Linked DNA regions of Homo sapiens: regions 1 and 2 are each reported to be linked to region 3. Evidence: microRNA targets listed by miRTarBase, many of them from high-throughput screens and not tested one by one. Region 3 holds a microRNA gene; each other region holds the end of a gene's coding sequence. Distances are between the middles of the regions.

What was found. The annotated mature microRNA hsa-miR-5584-5p reads CAGGGAAAUGGGAAGAACUAGA and lies in region 3 at 2,264-2,285, shown strand. An mRNA with a match to its seed (bases 2 to 7 or 8) in the 3' UTR can be bound and repressed. Matches are read on the target gene's strand: a 7mer-m8 pairs with bases 2 to 8, a 7mer-A1 pairs with bases 2 to 7 and ends in A, and an 8mer does both.
Region 1: miRTarBase lists UCHL5 as a target of hsa-miR-5584-5p. Seed matches in the 3' UTR shown: 7mer-A1 at 810-816.
Region 2: miRTarBase lists PHF12 as a target of hsa-miR-5584-5p. Seed matches in the 3' UTR shown: 7mer-m8 at 848-854.

The regions. Positions count from the first base shown.
Region 1 is chr1:193,012,662-193,017,003 of GRCh38, reverse strand. UCHL5 (ubiquitin C-terminal hydrolase L5) reads left to right here. Exons shown (of 11, transcript NM_001199261.3): 11 at 609-4,342. The coding sequence ends at 653. Among named protein-coding and RNA genes, the nearest start is that of UCHL5, 45 kb to the left of the region's middle.
Region 2 is chr17:28,902,515-28,906,514 of GRCh38, reverse strand. It overlaps PHF12 (PHD finger protein 12), which reads left to right. Exons shown (of 15, transcript NM_001033561.2): 15 at 1-1,265. The coding sequence ends at 332. DHRS13 (dehydrogenase/reductase 13) reads left to right here and starts at 3,436. Exons shown (of 5, transcript NM_144683.4): 1 at 3,436-3,697; 2 at 3,814-3,932. The coding sequence starts at 3,571. RefSeq lists an enhancer at 169-669 and a silencer at 3,214-3,843.
Region 3 is chr1:44,543,230-44,547,576 of GRCh38, forward strand. It overlaps MIR5584 (microRNA 5584), which reads left to right and starts at 2,264; the gene lies at 2,264-2,323. All of the region lies in intron 2 of RNF220 (ring finger protein 220), which reads left to right. RefSeq lists an enhancer at 2,481-3,007.

The DNA.
Region 1 (4,342 bases), 150 Mb from region 3:
TTGATAACATCTATAAGCTCTGGCTTTTTCATTTGCTAAAGAATAAAACAAGTACTGTGTTCAAGCTATATAATTGTAATGAAGATCTATTGAACTAGTATGTAAAAACATTTTTTTTTAGGTCATATAAATAAAGTTTGTTGACACCAAGGATACATAATCCTTTAGTGACATTATGTTAAAGTCACTTAAACTGTTATGTTAAACTCATTTATTCACATTTGCAGAAACTAATGTAAGATTTTTCTTATGCTCATGTGAATAGGAAATGGGCAAATATGTGTATATATATTGTTTTGGAATACTCATGAATGAGTTTGACTTTATGGAATTTTTAAATTATTACAATTATAATAATTCATTTCACCTTCAGATAGGAAAGAACTGCAAACCAAACATGATCCTTTCTTAGGGCAAAGAATAACTATGTAATTGTCCAGGAAAAGTTTGTTATAAGTCTCAAGTTATAAAACATAATGCTTTAGAAGTCTTATAAACAATGTATTTCAAGCCTTTCAGCTTGAGAATACCCTCTTAGGCACATTTTATTCTAATATAGTCTAAAACTGACTTTTAAAATTTTGTAACATACTATTTTTAATTTTTAGGCAAAAGAAAAACAGAACGCAAAGAAAGCTCAGGAAACCAAATGAAGATGTTTTCAGATATGTACACATTTCTGCTTCTGCACATATTTTCATGGAAACCATTATGTATAAAGAACTTAGAGCAACATCCTAATTGGCTCAGTGCACGTTTGGCAATAGTGCCAGCCTGTCTTGTCTTTAATGCATGGATTCATAAACTTCTTCCCTACCTGCATCATGTGCATGTAGTGCATATTAAATGAAAGTGATATTAAGAATGCTTTCCCAAATTCCATTATTTGACATTGAGTCTGACAACTGTTAGTTTTCTGGTTGTCTAACTACCATATGAAGCTAGAAAATGCACAAACGATATTCCTTATCTGTAATTTAAATACTTAAAATTTGCAATTGTCAGATCTTGATTAAACTGGTTGTCTTATTTCTTCTCATCATTAACGGAAAAAAAATCAGTATTTCTATCTTTGATATCTAAGTGTTTTGAGGATTTTAAAACTGAATTTTATCTGCTATACCAGTTATTTGAGAAAGTATGATTTTAATGTAAATCATTTAAAAAGGACAAAAGTATAATTTCCAGTGATTTTCACTGCTGTCAGTAGAAAAGTAATAAACATCTCAATTTTATTTTAGTAAATTTTCTTCAAGTGTTTGGGGTTATTTGTTTATGTATTAGAGAATTGTTTCAGGAAGGTCTGAGTATTATGCTTCAAAGCAAAATTTCAGGTTAAGAAGAAATTGTAAATCTTAAAGAATGTTGGTGTTACTCTCAATGGAATATTGTTTCAAGCTTGTAAGCTGTGTATAAAAAAACTGGAGGTCTGACAGTTCATGTTATCTGCTTTTTTAAAAAGATGGTAGTGGTGATGGGGGTCTTTCTATGCCAATTTGAATAAATTTCGTACAGCCTGCAGTTTTCAAGAGCCATATGTAATTTGCTCACAATTGATTTTTAAAAATTGATTTGGGAGTTGCTTTGTAATAATCTTCTGCTTCTAATCTTCCTTTGCAAGTCAGACTTTAAAGAAGACTTTATAAAGCTTTCTTTTTTAAAGGAAGTAACCTACTTTTTTCTTTATCAAGAATATTTCTGAGGTTGATACATGACTTTAACATTTTATTATTTATTGTAAAATCAATTTAGCATAATTTATTTTATTAGGGAGAATGTGTACCCATCTTCCAGCTTCAGCACATTTTTAAGGATTGTTTTTAAGCTTAGTAATTGTGGTATTAAATGACTTAGAACTAATGGAGAAAAACCTGATAGGAAATTGATAGAAAAACGAATGAAATATTTTTCATACATAATTTCAGTTGGAGGTAATGGAAAATATGTAGTCTCTCAGTTATTTGTGGGTAAATATGTTTTGCTGTTGATACAGTAATAATTATGGAGTGTTTTCAAAGCCATGATATAATTTTTAAAAATAGATTTTTAAGGAAGGCTCATCTTGATCTCATTCGTTTATTTCAGCTTAATTTATATATTCTTTCCTATTGAGGCTTAAATTTTGTTAAGCAATGTGAGGATTATTGTGGTAAGTTGTATTTAGTAATCAATACAGTGTGATACTGGCACTAGGATTGACAAATAAAGCAATGGAACAGAAGAGAGAGCCTGAAAACAGATCAACGTTTATATGATCACTTGATTTCGACAAAGGTGGCAAAACAATTCAACAGAGAAGGAAAGTCTTTTCAACAAATGGAGCCAGAATAGAATAGCTGAATATCCATATAGAAAAAAGTGAACAATGACCCCCTACCTCACAAAAATGACTTTGAGATGAATCATAGACCTAAATGTAATATTTTAAAAGTATGAAGCTTTTTAACTGAAAACAGATGATATTTTTGTGACTTGGGGGGTTAGCCAAAGGTTTCTTAGGTCACAGAAAGCAGTAACCATAAAAGATCCAAAATTAGAGCTCATCAGAATTGTCATTGAAAGTGTTAACAAAAGTAATATCAAATGACATTTGAAAAATATCCTTGTAAAATGACTATATTAATAGGTATAAGGATTTTTCTTATTAATCTAATAAAATTCCTTAATAGGAATTTCCATAGCTTAAGAGTGGTTTATTTTATCTGCATCTTCTTTGGTGATTGCAAATCCCTTGTGATACTTCATGATTACTTCTGTCTGTGAATAAAGAAGTGTGACTTGTCTGGGTGCTATATGTTGCTGGTTTGAAATTAAGTCATGAAGCTAGAGGGTAGAGAAAATGGAAGAATAAAGAGCAACCCATAAATAGATAAATGCTATTTGGAAAGTTTTTTTTAAATGATATTTTATAGAAAATCTTGCTCATTTCATATTTAGTCTTTTCTAAAATTTTATTTAATTATTGGGTAGGTGAAGTCGCTTCCATTCTATTTTAAGCCTTCAAAATAGCCAATTCTAAGGGATGTACTTCTGTTATTATCAACAAAAACCTTGCCAACAGCTGCGGCACTGGCTACTCTCACCTTATATGTTTAGTTCCCAAGATAGCTTGCCCTTTTCCGAACAGCAGTCAGCTCGACTGTGCCACTAAAACAGACAAATATTTGCTCGGGAATCACAACCACGGGGACTTGCTCCCCCAGTTAGGACCATGGTACATATTTGTGTGTATATTATGGTGTTACATGCAGATTAATACTTTCAATTAATCCTCCTAGTTGCCTGTAACGTTAACATTTCAAGATGCATTTAGATATTTTTATCCTGTAGGAGGATTTTGTTTATTTGAGGGAAAAAAAGGGCTTTTAATGTATTCTCCTCAAAAACCATTTAGAGAAAACAGATAAGTAAAAATAAAATTTAAATTACCATATTTCTATTTACAGGGATGAGCACATTAACATTTTATGTATTTAGTGATCCTTTTTCCTCATGTGTACACATATGTTTTTGTGTGTTAGTCTTGCTTGCCCTCCCCATAGTCTGAAATAGTTCTATGAAGTTTATATTATTTTTAAACTTGATCATATACAAATTTTCAGGAAACAAACCACTCTAGCTATTTGAAGAGGAATGCAGATTTATATTGGGAGTTTTGAAACTACATAGTTTCTTACAAAATCATTGGAAGGTTTGGAGGAGCGGTTTCAAGCTTAAGTCTCCAGAGATTACTCCCATCCAAACATACAGTATTGGTGTACCTAGGGAACTGCTCACTTTTGCAACAGTCAGGGAGTTCACTGTTGGAACTATTAATGTTAGAACATGTTGCAGTAGTTGTGTTCAAGGAATGAGGAACCTGCTGTAACACTTAATGACTGTGCACTGGAATGCAGAAAAGTTAAACCTTCTATGCCTAAATGCCTAAAACAGACAAACTGGATAGTTATATTTTTAGAATGATACTGCGTTTTTTAGAGTAGTATGAATTCCTAGATCAGTCAAACATGCATGTTATTTAGTTTGTTCTTTAGTATATTGTTAACTGGCCTAAATCCAATGACTGACATGGTAAAGATTCACCACTTCTAGCATACTGGGCACTTTTTATTTTTGACTTGATTACATTAACTTTTTGAAAACTATTCAGTGATTTATTCAGCCAATCTTATGAGGTACATCTGAGTTGTTCTAGATGCTAGAGGATAGTATAACAGGAAAAAGCCCCTGCTCTCATGGTGAGACAGATAATAAGTATGTAATACAACTTTTCAAATAGTAGTATGAATGGTAAAAAAAATAGGGAAAAGGGGTGGGAGGAGCTGAGGTTTGATAGAATGGT
Region 2 (4,000 bases), not on the chromosome of region 3:
GCCGCCGGCACCAGAAACAGGACGAAGAGCCAAGTGAGGAGGCAGCCATGATGAGTTCCCAGGCCCAGGGGCCGCAGCGGAGACCCTGCAATTGCAAAGCCAGCAGCTCGAGCTTGATTGGGGGCAGTGGGGCCGGCTGGGAGGGCACAGCCTTACTGCACCATGGCAGCTACATCAAGCTGGGCTGCCTGCAGTTTGTCTTCAGCATCACTGAGTTTGCGACCAAACAGCCCAAAGGCGATGCCAGCCTGCTGCAGGATGGGGTCTTGGCCGAGAAGCTCTCTCTCAAGCCCCACCAGGGCCCTGTGCTGCGCTCCAACTCTGTTCCTTAGGACTGGCGGCTACCCCGCCACTGGCCTGTACACCCACCCAAGACTCCTGCAATGCAAAAATGTACACAAACCAAGCCCGGGTGTTTTCTATACTCTACCAGAAACCCTTCAACTACAATCTTTGCATGAAATGAAGAAAACCTTTTGACTGTTTTTTAAAAATCCTTTTTCTTTTCTCAAGTTCTAGGGGGCATTTGCACATATATTTGTACTCAACATTTCATGGGAAAGCGGCAGACCTGAGCTGAGGAACAGCGTGGGCAGGGAGGGAAAGACCCAGGGTCTGGACACTTCCTCCAACACAAAACCCTTCCCCACCCACCTCCTGCTCCCTCCCCCTCGCCCACCATTGTAAAATAATCAGAAACTTGTTCTATTTTGTGGCAGTGACAATAGTTTTATATTAAAAGAAAAAATACAGTTTTCATACAGCAAAATCTATACAATATCATTGTTTTATTTAATATAAAGATCGCTACCCACCTTCCTTCCATGGTTCCCACCCTCCACGTTATTTTCCCTTTCTGCAGCGGTTGCACTACAGGTAGCTACTGTGTATTATGGACAAATGAGAAATGAATTCTTTTTCTGGCTGTCCATCTATTTTATTTCAAATAAGGAAAAGTGTATTTGGATTTTGTGTAAATACATCTAGTGATGACATTTTTTCAATGTTTTTAAAAACCGTGTACAGTACTACATGTGGTAGAGCGTTTTCTCAAATTGTCTATTGTAGCAAAAATGTTTTTGTCGTAAACCTGTTTTGTCTCCTTTTTTTGTTCTCTTGCCACTTCTCTCCTCTTCCTCCTGCCCCTGGTTCCCTCCTCTCCTCCCACCCCCACAACCAGTACCAATGTACATAGTAATTGTAATGTTTTAGACTTTACAGAAACTTTCCTGTATTCTGTATATAAAAAACAAAAATACTTCAAATTGTTTTCTGACTGTCTGTCCTACCTGTCATCACCCTTAGAGGAGACCCTCCCCTAGATCTGGGTCTAGCAGGTGGGGGGCCTTTTGAACAGGTCTCATTCCCATAGGGAAGTTTGGTAGGGGAGGTGTTGGAGAAAAGTGAGCCAGGGTGGGTGGATGACAATGGAATGACATGGGTGCGTCTGCTGGCCCGGGGGGAGCTGTTTCTCCAGAGAACCCTGACTGATAGTGGAATCTAGTCTTGACCTGTCACTTCTAGTCATGTGATCTGCAGTCACACTTCTCTACAACTGCTATTCCTCATCAAAAAACGAGTCTGCTGCATTACCTTAATTCTCAAGTCCCGGGGACCTTCATTAAACCAAATTCCATGCTTTCCTCCCAGATCTTAGTGAAAAACTCTCCAGGAAGTTTTCCTGAGGTCAGCCTCCTCAGATGGAGAGCACCTCTGTGTATATTCCAGCACTGTTTGTGTAGGTGCATCTGCTTGTGTGTCAGGATTTTGCCTTAGGGATAGAAAATGAATATTCTACCCCCAGCCTCATCCCACAGCATCTACAATGGAAACCCGAATCCGCAGTGCAGCTAAATAGGAAACTGGCCCTGGAATCTGAGGTCTGTCCCTGACTTTCATCTGCCCATGCAGGCGTCATCACTCTGCTCCCGGTGCCCTAATGGGCTTTTTGAACTCCCTAAGGACAGAAACTTGTATATCTTCCACTCGGAATTTCCAAGTCTAACTACACTGCTGGGCACACCATAAGTGCCAAATACCAGGTTCTAAATTGTACTGAATGTATCAGGCAACGGCCTTCTGCCCTGGAATGGTCTTACCCATTTGTTCCTAGCCAGCCCCACCCTTCCTGCCATCATGGTCACTTGTAATTGAGTGATGGAGCTTCTCTGCCTGTCTCTTATCACCTATGAGAACCATTCCAAAGGCAAATTTCCTCCTGAAAGGCAATAACAGATTTTACTCTCTATCTCTTCCTGCTTCCCTTCAGCCATGGAAGGCACTAGTGGGGTTGAGGTAGGGAGATACAGAGGGGGAATGAAGGAGTGAATTCTGACACCCCTTAACTGCCTGTGCCACCTTTAACAGTGTCCTCTCTAGCCTGTGTGGGGAGAACACGGAAGAATCCTAGAAGCTGGGGGCTGGATGTGAAGATAAGAAAACGAAGGATTTGGCCCAGTGCAGAGGCTCACACCTGTAATCCCAGCACTTTGAGAGGCTGAGGCAGGTGGGTCACTTAAGGTCAGAAGTTTGAGACCAACCTGGCCAACATAGTGAAAACCCTTCTCTACTAAAATACAAAAATTAGCCGGGTGTGGTGTCACACACCTGTGATCCCAGCTACTCTGGATTCTGAGGCAGGAGAATTGCTTGAACCCGGGAAGCGGAGGTTGCAGTGAGCCGGGATCACGCCACTGCACTCCAGCCTGGGCAACGAGAGTGAAACTCCGTCTCAAAAGAAAGAAAGAAAGGAAAGAAGGAAGGAAGGGAGGGAGGGAAGGAAGGAAGGAAGGAAGGGAGGAAGGAAGGAAGGGAAGGAAGGAAGGAAGGAAGGAAGGAAGGAAAGGAAAGGAAGGAAAGGAGAAGGATTTGTGCAGAAGGGAAGGAAGGAGAAGGATTTGTTCTTAGAGGGAAAAGCATCTAGGACTAGACTCAAAGACACACGTGTATTCATGTACACACCTAACTTCAGAAGGGAGGGACTGTGCTACATACACCTCGAGTAAACATATGGAGATATGCAAGCACATGCACTGGCAGAGACTACAGATGCAGGCACATACCTGGAGGGACTCTGCCAGAATGCACACAAACACCTACAAGGTGCTTACAGGAGCTCACACACAGGATCCAGAGGCACGCACACAACCCAAAGGGTGATCCTCAGGGACATGGGCACATACACACCTAGAGATCATTCACATACAAGCGTTGCAGATGCATGCACATACCTAGCGTGCACTCACAGGGTGTACGTGGACACACACACCCAGGAGTTCACACAGGCACACACCTAGGGGGCGCTCCCAGGGCCCAAGCGCACACACTCACCTCAAAGGTGTCCACAGAGGCACACGCCCCCAGGACGCCGACGCACGCCTAGGGGGCGCTCGCAGGGCCGGCGCGCACCCGCACGCGCACACGCCCCTGCCCAGCCTCCTGCCCGCCTCCGCCTTCGGAGGCTGACGCGCCCGGGCGCCGTTCCAGGCCTGTGCAGGGCGGATCGGCAGCCGCCTGGCGGCGATCCAGGGCGGTGCGGGGCCTGGGCGGGAGCCGGGAGGCGCGGCCGGCATGGAGGCGCTGCTGCTGGGCGCGGGGTTGCTGCTGGGCGCTTACGTGCTTGTCTACTACAACCTGGTGAAGGCCCCGCCGTGCGGCGGCATGGGCAACCTGCGGGGCCGCACGGCCGTGGTCACGGGTGAGTGCGGAGGCGGGTGAGTGCGAGCTGGCGGGGCGCGCGGAGAGGAGGCCGGGCCGGCGGTAGCAGCGGCCCGCCGGGCTCAGCTCAGCTCGGCTCCCGCCCGCGGTCCGCAGGCGCCAACAGCGGCATCGGAAAGATGACGGCGCTGGAGCTGGCGCGCCGGGGAGCGCGCGTGGTGCTGGCCTGCCGCAGCCAGGAGCGCGGGGAGGCGGCTGCCTTCGACCTCCGCCAGGTGAGAGGCAGCGGGGGCGCGTGGGACGGTGAGCCGAGAACCCGCCGGGACACAGAGAAGCCAGCAAA
Region 3 (4,347 bases):
TCCCCCTTCCCTCCGGTTGAGCAGAGCCAGAGTTAAGCCTGGGGTTAATGCCCAGTGACACCTGCAGGTTGGCTAGTGTTGTTGACATGGGGCTGGGGGGAGGGGAGGGGGTGATGGGGGAGATCGTTGGTGGCTTTATTATGGAGAACTCAGCAGGCCTGGGGCCTTCTATTGTCCAAGTGGCAAATAAATAAATAGGAGAAAGTAAGTCTTCCCCATGGCTTACCGACGGGAGGTTAACAGCTGGACATGACATGACAAATTGGGCATTTTTCTTTGGGGACTGATCCTTACAGCAGCTAGCAGGGAGAATGAGAGAGAGAGAGGGAGGGGGAAGTAGAGAGAGCAAAAGCAAGCCGGAGCACGGAAGGGGCTAGTCACAGAAGTCAACGTGGAAGCCGTGTGTGCATGTACAAGAGTACGTGACCGGGGTGTACAGGAAACATTGCATCATGTTTTGGGCATTAAAAAAAAATACATGCAAGCATTTCACATGTAACGACTTCAGGAGTCAATCCCAGAACCCCAAAAGCTGGGTATCTGGCTGTGGGGGGAGATATCTCTGGGATCTGCCTTCTTGAACCCCTCCCCCGTCCTGCCAAATGGAAAAACCAAAAGGTCAACGCCAGCTCTGATCCCAAAGAATCTCCTTCCTCCAGATGAGTGGGATTACTGGGCAGTGGCGAGTGGTGGAGCAAGCAGCCTATCTCCAGCCTGGGCCCGGGGTGAGAACTCTTGCATTATGCCCAGTTGCCCGGAACTGGTCCCAGCTGGACAGCAGAGCATCCCACTGGCCTGTGGAGCTGGGGACAGAGAGCAGCAGCTCTCCCCTGACCCTGTCCCATCTTCCTCCTCATCCCCAGGGAATACCCAGCAAGAGGTCGGGAGGACCACAGGAGACAACCACTCCCAAACAATGATCTCAGTTGCCCACTGTGAACTGGAGCGGGGGTGGGAGAAGAACAGAGCAGGAGCAGACAGGAAAATGCTTGATCTCTGCCGGGGCCCCAGAACCATCTGAGCCAAGGACTGCTCTCCATCCCTGTCTTCTGAGGCTGTAGATTATAGTGGGTAGTCACTTGTGCTCTGGAGTCAGACAGACCTGGGATCACCCTGTTCCTCTTGTTCTTGGCCCTGTGATCTTGGCATGCTATTTAACCTCTCTGAGCCTCAGTTTCCTTATAGGTAAAATGGGACTAATACCAGTACTAGCCAGCACGAGGTTTTAATGAGTTCATGCATGTAAGTGCTGAGTGCAGAGTCTGGCACACGATAAATCCTTTATAAATGCCACTCAGCATTGCTCTGGGGCTAGCCAACCTTTTCCTCCCTGTTGCCCTGTGTTTTAAGATTGACTGAGGGCTCTATAGAACTGTCCTCCGGAGAAGGAGGGAAGTGCATCTCTAGCTCACCTTTCTGGAAGTTATCCTTTCAATCTCCAAAGGCTGGGCATGGATTAGCCTAAAGCCTTGTGGAACTTTGCCTTCCAAGACATGTTTGTTTCTAGCAGTGGGCTGCAAGGAGAAGCCTTGTGGCTGTGATTCTGCTCCATGCCCACTCCACGGCGGATGCCTGACCAGTGTTCCAAGGACATTTTGAAGGAAGAGAGGATTTCTGATTTCCAGGAGGGGTTGTTGTATGTCCTGGAATGCAATCTCTCCATTCTCCCACTGGGTACAGAGAAAAACCACAGGAAAATGGTGAGAAGATGCTGAATGAGTTAATGCAACCAGGAAATACTTATTGAGCATGTACCAAGTGTCAAGCATGGCTCTAGACCCTGGGAATAGAGCCACAAACAAAGCGGGCTAAAATCCTTGCCCTTGAGGAGCTTACGCCGTAGTTCTCTAGGAAGGCAAGCGGGACACCTCGGCGTTGCCTCCACCCCTTCCATGTGGCCATGGTCCATTGTGATCTTCTATGCTCTTCCTGTTGGATTCAAATCAGGCCTCACAGAAGAGCCAGTCACAAAGGGAACTCGGAGATGTGCAGGACAGAGAGAAGAGCTGACGGGACATCTGGTACCTTCGGTTGGAGGGAGGGCAGTTTCTGAGGATTAAAAGAAGCTTTATTGAAGGGAGGTTTGAAAGGAGAAGAATTGTGGAGAAGAAAGCTACTGTGTATTTCATGCTGATTCCATGCCATTAACTTTCAGGCACTTTACATCCATTATCTAATTTTATCCTCAGGCACTCAGCAAGGCAGTTCACGTTATTCCCACCTTGAGATTCAGAGGAGGAAGTGACTAATCCAAGATCCATAACAGGGAAATGGGAAGAACTAGATTTGAATCCAGACCTTTAGTTCTTCCCTTTGCCCAATTATGCTCCTTGTGGTTTGCTGGAGAAAGCCTGGCAGAGGGTGCAAGGGCAACAGTGGGGGTGGGGGTGCAGAGGCTAGGAGACCTGACCAGAGTGTAGAGGGGTTCACAGGGCCAAGGAGAGGAGATATCTAGGGGGCCTAAAGATGGGTGAGACCTCTGAGCCTCCCTAAAACAGCATACTGCAACCTCTTCATCAGAAACCCAATTTTTTTTTTTTTTTTGAGATGGAGTCTCACTCTTGTTGCCCAGGCTGGAGTGCAATGGCGCAAACTCGGCTCACTGCAACCTCCACCTCCTGGGTTCAAGCAATTCTCCTGCCACAGTCTCCCGAGTAGCTGGGATTACAGGCATGCGCCACCACGCCCGGCTAATTTTCTATTTATAGTAGAGACGAGGAGAAACCCTTTCTTGCATGTTCTCCTACCTCATTGCAAACCTTTCTGAACTGAGTGAGGGGCATTCTGAACCTGAGAGAGAAAGGGGCTAGTTCTCTGAAGATCATCACCAGACCATAGAACCAAAGTGGGTAGAAGGTTTGTAAAAGGAGGTGGAAGGTGTGACAAAGACAATAAGCACCCGAGATGACTCACACTGCTTGCCAGGTAAGCATGGGCTGCAGGACGTGGGAGGAGAAGCTGGCGAGCTCACTCTCGGTCCTGGTTCTTCCGGCCACCCAGCCTCTTCATGGCCAGTACCAGAAGGCCAGATCCCTGTCCTCCTCCCCAGGCCCAGAGCCATGGCTCAGTGGCCCCCCAGGCCCAGCCTAAGAGGTCGCATGGCTAGGACTTCTACCTGGAGAATCACCTCCACCGCAACATCTGAGAGCAGGAGCCACACAGGAGCTTTCTTCTTCCAGGAAGTCCCTTCCCCCAGCCCCCTGCTACTCACTCCCCTATATAATATTCCACGTTAGAGCTCATAAATGCTGCTGCGGGTCCCCAGCCTGATTGAATTTGGAAGCCATTGTTTACAGACGTCTGGCTGTACAGGGGGATTTATTGAATTTTCCATGAAATGTTGCTCCCCTAATGCTGTAAAAGGCAAGCAGACCACATCAGAGGAGCCCTGCGTTACAGGATCATGTTACCCCGAGATGGAGTGCTTGCTTCAGAGTCATTGATGCACCGAGCTCTGGCTCTGAAAAGTAAGACCTCGGGCATCACTCCTGACCCCTCGCTGGCACCCCAAAGCTGGGACTTCTGAGCCAGCTCTGCCCCTGCATTTCCCTCCACCCATGTCTGGTTAGTCTCAAATCCCTCTCCCACATCCACTCTCCTCTCCAGCCCACCTGCTATGGACAACTGCATTGCTACAGCAGCCTCTCCAGGCGCCTCCTGGCGGTCCTCTCTCACCTGCCCCAGTCCCAGAGTCATACCCCTCAAGGCAGATGACACTAAGGAGGGGTTCAGCAAGTAAATAAGCAAAGGAAGAGAAGGAAGCAGGGCAGAAAGAAGGGAGAAGAAAACCAAGGTGTTCATGTTGTCACACATTGAGAGGGATGCTTCCTCCAGGGTGCCTGGCACATTAGGCCCTGGGAATCTGTGGACACGAGAGCCCCCAGGATGGGAAAAGGCATTGCCAACAGCCCTGTGAGACAGAGCTGAAGTGAAGATGTCTCCTTGTGTGTGTCACAAAAATGCAACTGGACCAAGCCTTCCCCATTTTAAAAAACACATTCTTTAAACCCTCCTCACTCCTTGAGCTTCTGTCCCCTTCACTGCCTCACTGCTCAAAGGCTTTTTTATATTTAACCACTTCCATTCTCTCCACTGGCTCATTTCTGCCACAGTCCTTACCTCTTTGGTGAATCTGTTCTCCTAAAGATTGTTCATCCACATCTCCAAGTCCATGTTGGTGTTCACCCTTCTTAACATCTCTTCGCCTAACCCTGCGGTCACCCTCCTGAAACACTTTTCTCTCTCGGCATCTCTCATACCACCTCCTGGTTCTCCTTGCAGACAGCTCCTTCTCTGGCTCTTTGCCCTCCTGCCACCCTAAATAAAAGTAGGTGTTTCCCAGTGTTC